Regions from separate parts of the Homo sapiens genome. Here region 2 is linked to region 1. The links come from fine-mapping of genetic effects on gene expression. A gene starts in region 1. The other region holds a variant in brackets. All regions are shown on one strand. Distances are between the middles of the regions. Region 1 holds the start of SLC22A17 (solute carrier family 22 member 17). Region 2 holds the start of CMTM5 (CKLF like MARVEL transmembrane domain containing 5).

Evidence for each region. PIP is the estimated chance that this variant, and not a neighbour inherited with it, causes the effect. A credible set is the group of variants that fine-mapping cannot tell apart.
Region 2: its variant is the best candidate, but not a certain one, in a credible set for the expression of SLC22A17 in subcutaneous fat (TwinsUK, PIP 0.70).

The regions. Positions count from the first base shown.
Region 1 is chr14:23,350,381-23,354,900 of GRCh38, reverse strand. SLC22A17 (solute carrier family 22 member 17) reads left to right here and starts at 2,014. Exons shown (of 10, transcript NM_016609.7): 1 at 2,014-2,255; 2 at 2,450-2,953; 3 at 3,046-3,149. The coding sequence starts at 2,160.
Region 2 is chr14:23,373,225-23,377,224 of GRCh38, reverse strand. It overlaps IL25 (interleukin 25), which reads right to left. Exons shown (of 3, transcript NM_172314.2): 2 at 3,829-4,000; 3 at 822-1,600. The coding sequence ends at 1,345. CMTM5 (CKLF like MARVEL transmembrane domain containing 5) reads right to left here and starts at 179. Exons shown (of 6, transcript NM_001288746.2): 1 at 1-179. The variant G/A (reference allele first, on the strand shown) is at 2,190.

The sequences.
Region 1 (4,520 bases):
AAAATTTCTGAACAGAGACAAGTTAAAAGTGTGGTTCAGTGGAGAGAAGGGGGAAAGATTTCCCGGCTGACAATGATAGAACACTGCTTTCTAGCCCTTACCTAGGATTAGAGAATAAAGTACCTATCAGGTAACAAATCTCTTAGAGATGTGTGTCTCTACCTTTAATGTATAATACCTATGCCTGGAGATCTGGATAAAATACAGATTATGATTCAAGGGTCTGGGTGAGGCTTGGATTCTGCATTTCTAACAAGCTCCCAGGAATGCTGCTGGTCCATGAACCACACTTTGAGTAGCAATTCTAGAGGTTAGGGAAGACTCCTGTGTAGCAAAGATGTTTAGGCTGAGAGCTGAAGGATGAGAAAAATGTGACTAAGAAGCTTTTTAGGTGCAGGAACCAGCTTGTTCAAAGGCCTCGTGGCGCTGGGAAAACTAGAAGAAGGTCTGTGGCTGGAGTGCAGAGAGTTTGGGGAAAGAAGTGAGATGGAACTACAGACAGCATGTGACCAGGCATGTAGAACCATGTATGAGGTATCTAGATTTTTAATATTCACTTTGACAGTGAGGAGACACCACTGAAGGCTGGTTAGCAGGAAAGATACATGATCAGATCTGTATTTTGAAAAGATCATTCTATCTGACTATAAATGACATATGGGTGATAAGGAGGTATAAACAAAGCGGACGCTGAACACCAGTTAGGAATTAGGGAGCTAAAGTGGTCTTTGCAACAGGTAGCTTGACTAATAATGGTAGAGATGGAGAGATGTGGGATGTCTGAGAATATATAGGAAGTAAAATGGGCAGAATTTTGTAAAGAATTCAACATGGATAAGGAAGAGAAAGCTCTAAAGGCTGTTGCCTGAGCATTTGGCCACAATGCGATGTTGAGGGTGCCATTCGCTGCAGAAAAAAGCAGTGGAAGCCAACCAAGTTATGGGGGAAAAGCAAAAATTTCGTCTTGAACATATTGAGTTTGAGGTCCCTGTGAGTCATCCAAGGTGAAGGTCAAATAAGAGGTGGCTTCATAGGTCTGGAGCTCAGAACAGAGGTGGAAGCTGGAGATGTCAGTCTGGGCGTCAGGTTTGTATTGTTTGTATGGGTGGTGATTGAAGCTGTGGGCATAGGTAAGATCCCAAAGTGGAGACAGTGTGAGATGAGAGGAGGGCCTAGGACTAAGTCTGTGAGGATTCCAGACACTGAACCATGGTGTCTAAATGATACAGACGGGAATGGCCCTAGAAGCCAGCACCACAGCCTCATCACTACCAATACAGACCCCTCCTGCAGTTGCGTCACCCCGCTGGACTTCAATCATTGCCTCAAGAACCGGGAGGATAATGGCCTGCCCATGCTCAGCACCAATGCCATGAGCTGGAAGACGATTTCTGCAATGGAGAAAAGGGGAGCAAGAGAGACTCAGCAGCAAAGGAAGAGAGTGTTTAGAGGAAGAGGGGTCAACAGTGCCAAATGCTGTTGAGAAATGGAGATTCAAACAGGATGGGAGTGATGAAACCCAAGAAAGTGGTCTCCTTGTAGAGGACTGAAGCTAGGGCTGATACAGGGCCAAGACAGTCTTCCATATGCATAAGTTGTACTGTAATAGCCAGTTTACATGTCTGTCTCCCTGGAGTAAAGGTCTCCAAAGTGGAACTTGTCCACCCTGTTATCCTTAAAGTCTAGTGCAAGTCCTGGAACGTAGTGGACACTTAAATTTTACTGATTAGTGAATGGGTGAATGAATGAATGAATGAATGATGGCAAATGATTGGAAGCAGAGGAAGAATCTCTGGCATCTGCCTGGACTAGCTACTATCCTTCAGCTTTTTTTCTTTTTTACCGCAATGGCCCGCAGACCCAGGAAAGAGACGACAGAGCCCCCCTTCCCTCCCTCCCCTGGGCCCTGGCCCCCCTTCCTCTCTCTGACGAAGAGTCTGGACCGAAGGTTCTGCTGACGTGGGAAGGGGAGGAGAGTCTAGAGGAAGGGGAGGGGAAAGCAGCGCAGAGATCGCAGAGACCAAGGAGGCGCCCGCGGCTGCAGAGCTGCAGAGCGGGATCTCTTCGAGCTGTCTGTGTCCGGGCAGCCGGCGCGCAACTGAGCCAGAGGACAGCGCATCCTTTCGGCGCGGGCCGGCAGGGCCCCTGCGGTCGGCAAGCTGGCTCCCCGGGTGGCCACCGGGACCCCCGAGCCCAATGGCGGGGGCGGCGGCAAAATCGACAACACTGTAGAGATCACCCCCACCTCCAACGGAGTAAGTGCCCGAGCCCCAGGTGGCGACGCCATCCTCTCCCAGCACCCCCGCCCCCGCGGAGCGTCTGGCATTTTCCTCCTGCGCATCCCTCGCCCCTGACTGCCTTCCTAGCCCTCCCTCCCACCTGCCCCCTGCCCTTGCTCTGCGGTTTCCTCCGCTTCACCCTTCTCCTGCCACCCCCTGCCCCCCAACAGCAGGTCGGGACCCTCGGAGATGCGGTGCCCACGGAGCAGCTGCAGGGTGAGCGGGAGCGCGAGCGGGAGGGGGAGGGAGACGCGGGCGGCGACGGACTGGGCAGCAGCCTGTCGCTGGCCGTGCCCCCAGGCCCCCTCAGCTTTGAGGCGCTGCTCGCCCAGGTGGGGGCGCTGGGCGGCGGCCAGCAGCTGCAGCTCGGCCTCTGCTGCCTGCCGGTGCTCTTCGTGGCTCTGGGCATGGCCTCGGACCCCATCTTCACGCTGGCGCCCCCGCTGCATTGCCACTACGGGGCCTTCCCCCCTAATGCCTCTGGCTGGGAGCAGCCTCCCAATGCCAGCGGCGTCAGCGTCGCCAGCGCTGCCCTAGCAGCCAGCGCCGCCAGCCGTGTCGCCACCAGTACCGACCCCTCGTGCAGCGGCTTCGCCCCGCCGGACTTCAACCATTGCCTCAAGGATTGGGACTATAATGGCCTTCCTGTGCTCACCACCAACGCCATCGGCCAGGTGAGGCGGCCAGGCGGGCCGCGGGTCTGGGGGCGGGCAGAGAGCGGCGAGGGCGGGGCCTCACGCCCGCTGCACCCTTCTCACATCCCCAGTGGGATCTGGTGTGTGACCTGGGCTGGCAGGTGATCCTGGAGCAGATCCTCTTCATCTTGGGCTTTGCCTCCGGCTACCTGTTCCTGGGTTACCCCGCAGACAGGTGAGGGCTGTCGTGGGGGCAGGGCTGGTAGAAAGGAGGGGGTGCTAGGGAAGCTAACCCAAGCAGCGGGCGTTTACAGGAGGTCGAAGACGATTCGCTGGACTCTGCAGTCTTCTCTGGACTTCTATTCAATGGTCTATCCATGTCTCAACTTCACTCTCCATCAAGAAATACCCCTTCCCTACCTCTTCCGCGCAAGGGAATGACTCGACCTCTATGGACTATTAGTCCCATTCCCACTAATTAGTGGCCCCCTATCCGTGAATCAATGGCCTCATCTCCAAAGAGAATAGTCTCATCCCCACTAACAGCCCACATGGACTGTTCGCTCCATCTCAGTGACCTCATTCCTGAAGATCAATATGTTAATTCCTAAACACCAACAGCTCCATTCCCACTGATCAATAGTTCAACTTCACAAACAAATTACCCCATTTCTGACCAGCGACCCCTCCCCTACAAGTCAACTAACTATCTCCAAAGACAATATCCTCAGACCCAGTAACCCACAGTCCCATGCCTGCCACCAAATGACCCAACGCTCTGTAGGGGAATAGCCCATAGATTAGCAGTCATACCCTCATGGATCCTCAGGGCTTTGAGATCCTCTCACCGAAATCCCCGTTTCCATGAGTCGGTAGCTTCACCTCTAGAGATCAACAACCCAATCCCAGCAACCAATAACTCTTCCCACAGATCAAAAATCTCATCTCTGATTCTGGTCACCTTCACCACTGACCAGATGCTCTCACTGCACTAAACTTCCGATTAGACTCAGCCCCATTGATCCACAGTTCCATCCAAGTGGATTAATAACTCAACTTCTGTGGATCAAAGCCATCCCAACATTCAATAGTCCAGTTCCTTAAAATCAATACCCATCCTCACTGCCCAATAGTCACACACCTCTGTGGGCCAATGATCCGAAACCCACAGGTCAATAGCCCATCCCTATGCATCAGTGGCCTCATTGCCACAGACCAGTAGCCTCATTCCTATGGAACCATGGTTTCATCCCCAAAGATCAATAATTTGGTCTTCTAAAATCTGTAGCCTTCAGCACATTAACCAATAAGCCCATCCTCATGGAAAAATGCCCCACCCCATTAGATCAATAGCCTAACTCCCAGGGATTGGTGCCCCTTTTGCAATGACCAGAGGCTCCCTATCTTCATCTCCATAGATCAATGGTCTTATCCCCAAAGATCAATAGCCCAGCCTCCAAGAATCAGTAACCATGTCTTCACTAACTCATAGTTAGTGACCATAATCACTTACCAATAGTCTCATCTCCCCTGGTCTGTGACCTTATCCTTACTGATTATTCCCATGGATTAATAGATTCATCCCACTGATCAATAGTCCTACCTT
Region 2 (4,000 bases), 23 kb before region 1:
CTACTGCCAAAAGCCCAGCAAGAGAAACAGAAATCTGGCAGGATGGGGAAACAGACAGGAGCAAGAAGGCACTTCGAGAAACCTGAAAGTGAAGCAGGAGGCTTGCCCACAGGGCCCCGGGAGAGAAGGCAGGCGCTGGGGGCCTTGCCCAGATGGGCCCTCACCCAGCTGCCCAGAGTGCCTCTGCTGCTGCCTGCACCAGCCCCCTAGAGACCCATGGGGAGGGGCAGAGAGGAAGGAGGCTCTAATCCCTCCCCTTGCTTAGAGCCCAACCCAGCCTGGAATAGAGAAGGAAGGGGAGAGGAGGAGGTCCGAAAAGAAACTGGGAGGAGCTGGGATGTGAGTAGAGGAACAGGGGCAGGACTGGGAGCCCCCAGGGACCTAAGCCTGAAGACATTTGTGTCCCCCTTCTCTAACCTTAACCCTCTTGTTTGGCCGGTCCTTTCTCCCATTTCCTTTTAGGGAGGGTGTGAGCTGGAGCCCAGCCCAGGCAGCACCCCCAGGACCAAGCTGCAGCAGCCAGGACTGGAGGACAAAGGCGGATTGTTGGGGGACAAGGGGGCGCTCTGTGCCTGCTGCAATGCCTCAATGGGCCTCTGTCTCTCCAGCATGCCGGGAGCGCGGCCTAGCCCCCACCCTGGTGTTTGGGATGGGCCAGGGAGACAGAGATGGGAGAGGACGGGAGGGTGCAGCGGAAACTCTGGAGGGCGGAGAGAGCTGGCAGGGTGGACAGAGGTGAGGGCCAATGGTGGAAAGGAGAAGGGACAGGCTGGGAGACCGCGAGATGTTCAGGCACCACGGATGCCAAATACAGATTAGGCCATTTTTAAATAAAGATATTTATTTGGATAAATCTCTATACATTCAATAACAGCTTCCTCCTCAGAATCATCCATGTCAAAAGACTAGTAACTACACTAGAATGCACCCAAAGTAGATGCTCACTGAGTGATGAGTAAACAAACAAATAAAACCAGGGGCTCTTTCTTCTCCAGCAAGGGGGAAATATCTAGAAAGTGCCTGTGCTGGGCCAGGGTAGCAGGGGATGGGAAAAGAGGAAGAGACAGGAGTGGTGGCCTCCAGAAATGGGCAGAACTTTGAAAACCTTTCCTGAGAGAAAATGACAGGACACCAGCTTCCGGCGGCCCTAAGCAGCAGCTGCTCTTTTCAAAATGTGCAGAAGTGCAGGCTTTCCCCAAAGCCCCCCATCCTGTCCCGGGATCCTGCTGCTCCAGACAGCACTTCACAGGGGCCAAGCATCTGGGCATCCTGGCCCTTCATGGCAAGTGGTTGTACACCTGGCTCCAGGTTTCCCAAAAAGGGACCAGCCTCCAGCAGGTCCGGCTAGCCCATCACACGGGGCCGCACACACACACAAGCTAAGGAAACACGGTACAGCCTGCGCTCCAGGCAGTAGCCCTTGTGGGTGCCCTTCTCGCCATGGCATGGCCGCCGGTAGAAGACAGTCTGGTTGTGGTAGAGCAGCTCCGAGTTGCCCCGGGGGTCCATGTGGGAGCCTGTCTGTAGGCTGACGCAGTGCGGGCACAGGCAACGGGCGTGGTACAGGTCCTGGGGGAGCCGGTTCAAGTCTCTGTCCAACCTGTGGGGGCGGCACTTGTCAGGCCTTGGAAAGATGGGCCGGAAACAGAGAGGGTGGGGTGGCATGGGAGTGCCAGAAGAAGGAAATGGTCCGTCTGGGGCCTTGGCCTCTTGTCTCAGTTCTGAACCCACTTGCTGTGTAACTTTGAACAAGTCACCTCCCTCCTTTATTAAATTTTCCCCACTGTAAATGAGGGTAGCAGGTGACAGAGTGCTTTCCAACTGGTCCTGGGACCGTGAGGGAGGCAGGGGAGGGTGAGCAGGCTCCTGCCTTAGCCTCCATTGACCAGCACTGCTTCTATCTGACTCAGCATGAGGTTTCTTATTGTAATGATTACACTTTAGGTGTTTTTGTTTGTTTTTTGATTTTTTGTTTTTGTTTTTTTGAGACGGAGTACCCAAGCTGGAGTGCAGTGGCACGATCTTGGCTCAACTGCAACCTCTACCTCCTGGGTTCGAGCGATTCTCCTGATGCCCGCCACCATACCCAGCTAATTTTCATATTTTTAGTAGAGATGGGGTTTCATGATGTTGGCCATGGTTGGCCAGGCTGGTCTTGAACTCCTGACCTTAGGTAATCCACCCACCTC[G/A]ACCTCCCAAAGTGCTGGGATTACAGGCATGAGCCACCGGGCCGGACTTTAGGTGGTGTTTCTATTATTATTATAGCATTATTGCAAAAGTAAAAACCACTCTGACATCCAAGTATTAAAGAGTATAAAGAGTGAAAGTTAATAGTCTCTCCCTACCAGCCCCACTCCCCAGAAGAAGCTATCCTCAACTATTTCCTGCACATTCTTCCAGACGCTGTGCAAGCTTATATTATAAGCATACTTGAGAGTGCATGGGAAGACTTATTTACTTATTCTGAAAGGATTTCATGGCAAAAAAAAAAAAAGAAAGAAAGAAAGAAAGATGAAAAACACTGAAAAGTAGATGTCCCACAGGTCTGCGACTCCATTAGTCTGGCAGGCGACAGTCTCCAGCTTGTGGGACCATTCCCCACACAGACAAGCCCTGGCAAATGGAATTAGCTAGCACATCACTTCCCAAAGTGGGTTCCCTAATAAATCACCTGCACCTGTTGGGTGCTTAAATGAATTTGGGAAACACCAGTTTAACGGTTTACTTTCTACAGACTTCTTGCAGACTTTAATGTACAATGACAGTATGAATCTCCAAGGGGTAGGAGATACAGCAGTCTTTCCCAAGTTTACCTGGCATCACTTTTTTCTGAGAAGCAGCTCATGGGATGAGCATTGCACAGAACACACTTTGGGGAAAGCCACCTGAGTGGTTCTCGGGTTCACAGACTCCCAGCAAGGGGTCTGGAAGACAGCTGAGTTAACCTCTGGCACCCGCCTCCCCTAAGAAGCTCCCATGCCATCTGATTTGGCCCAGGACCCAGCCAGCTTCTGAGACCACTCCAAAGAGTCATGACCTGTAGTGTCCACACTAGATCCAATCTCAGTTAGATCTGACCCCCTCCCCACCACTGAACTTCTCCATCTACCCCCAAAGCCAATGCTAAGACAGAACTAGAAGGAAGAAGTGAAATCACATGTCTGGAATCCCTAAGACCCTAGTTTTTAATATTTTGCTTCATCATTCATATTTCAGCACTTCCTAATATTTTTCATATCATGGCACAAATAGAGAACTATAATATTTATGTGGCACACTGAGTGAAAGAATACAGTACCCATGATCATGATCAAAGATATCCAGTCCACAGCTCCAGCCAGCCAGCTGCCCCCAAAAGTTAAGGGTTTCACTCCTTTAGTATGCTTATAACTAACCCATTCATGGCCAGGGCAGTATCAATTGGTATTGGGATGCTTCATGCCTGTATCATGCCATTATTCCCTAATATTTTACCCAGAAAAAACATGGGCCATTATAGGGATGTTTTAAAAGAAAAGGAGAGAACCAACATAAATACAGACTTTTACATACATTATATTTCATTTGATCTGCACATTAGCCTATGGGGCATTATATCATTTTGCAGGTGAAAAAAAAAAAAACCCTGAGTTTTGAAAACTTGAATTGACTCAAGATCATCCAATGAGAGTCAGAGCTAGGACTCAAATACAGACCTTGTCTAACTCCCAAACCTTTACAGCCCCTCTGAGATCAAAATGGGAAAGTAAGCTGGAATTGCCCTGGTCCCTCACGCATACCCTGGCCAGCACACACAGGGCAGGCATTCGGGAGGGGCAGCAGACTCACTCATATCTCCAGGGGGAGATGGCCCTGCTGTTGAGGGGTCCATCTTCACTGGCCCTACAGGACTCTGGGTGGCGGTTGGGCCTAGCAGGCTCTAGGGGAGGCACAGGCACAGTGCTCCACCTCAGCAGCTCCTCAGAGGTGTCCTGCCCTTTGCTGGGGCAGCAGCTGGGCC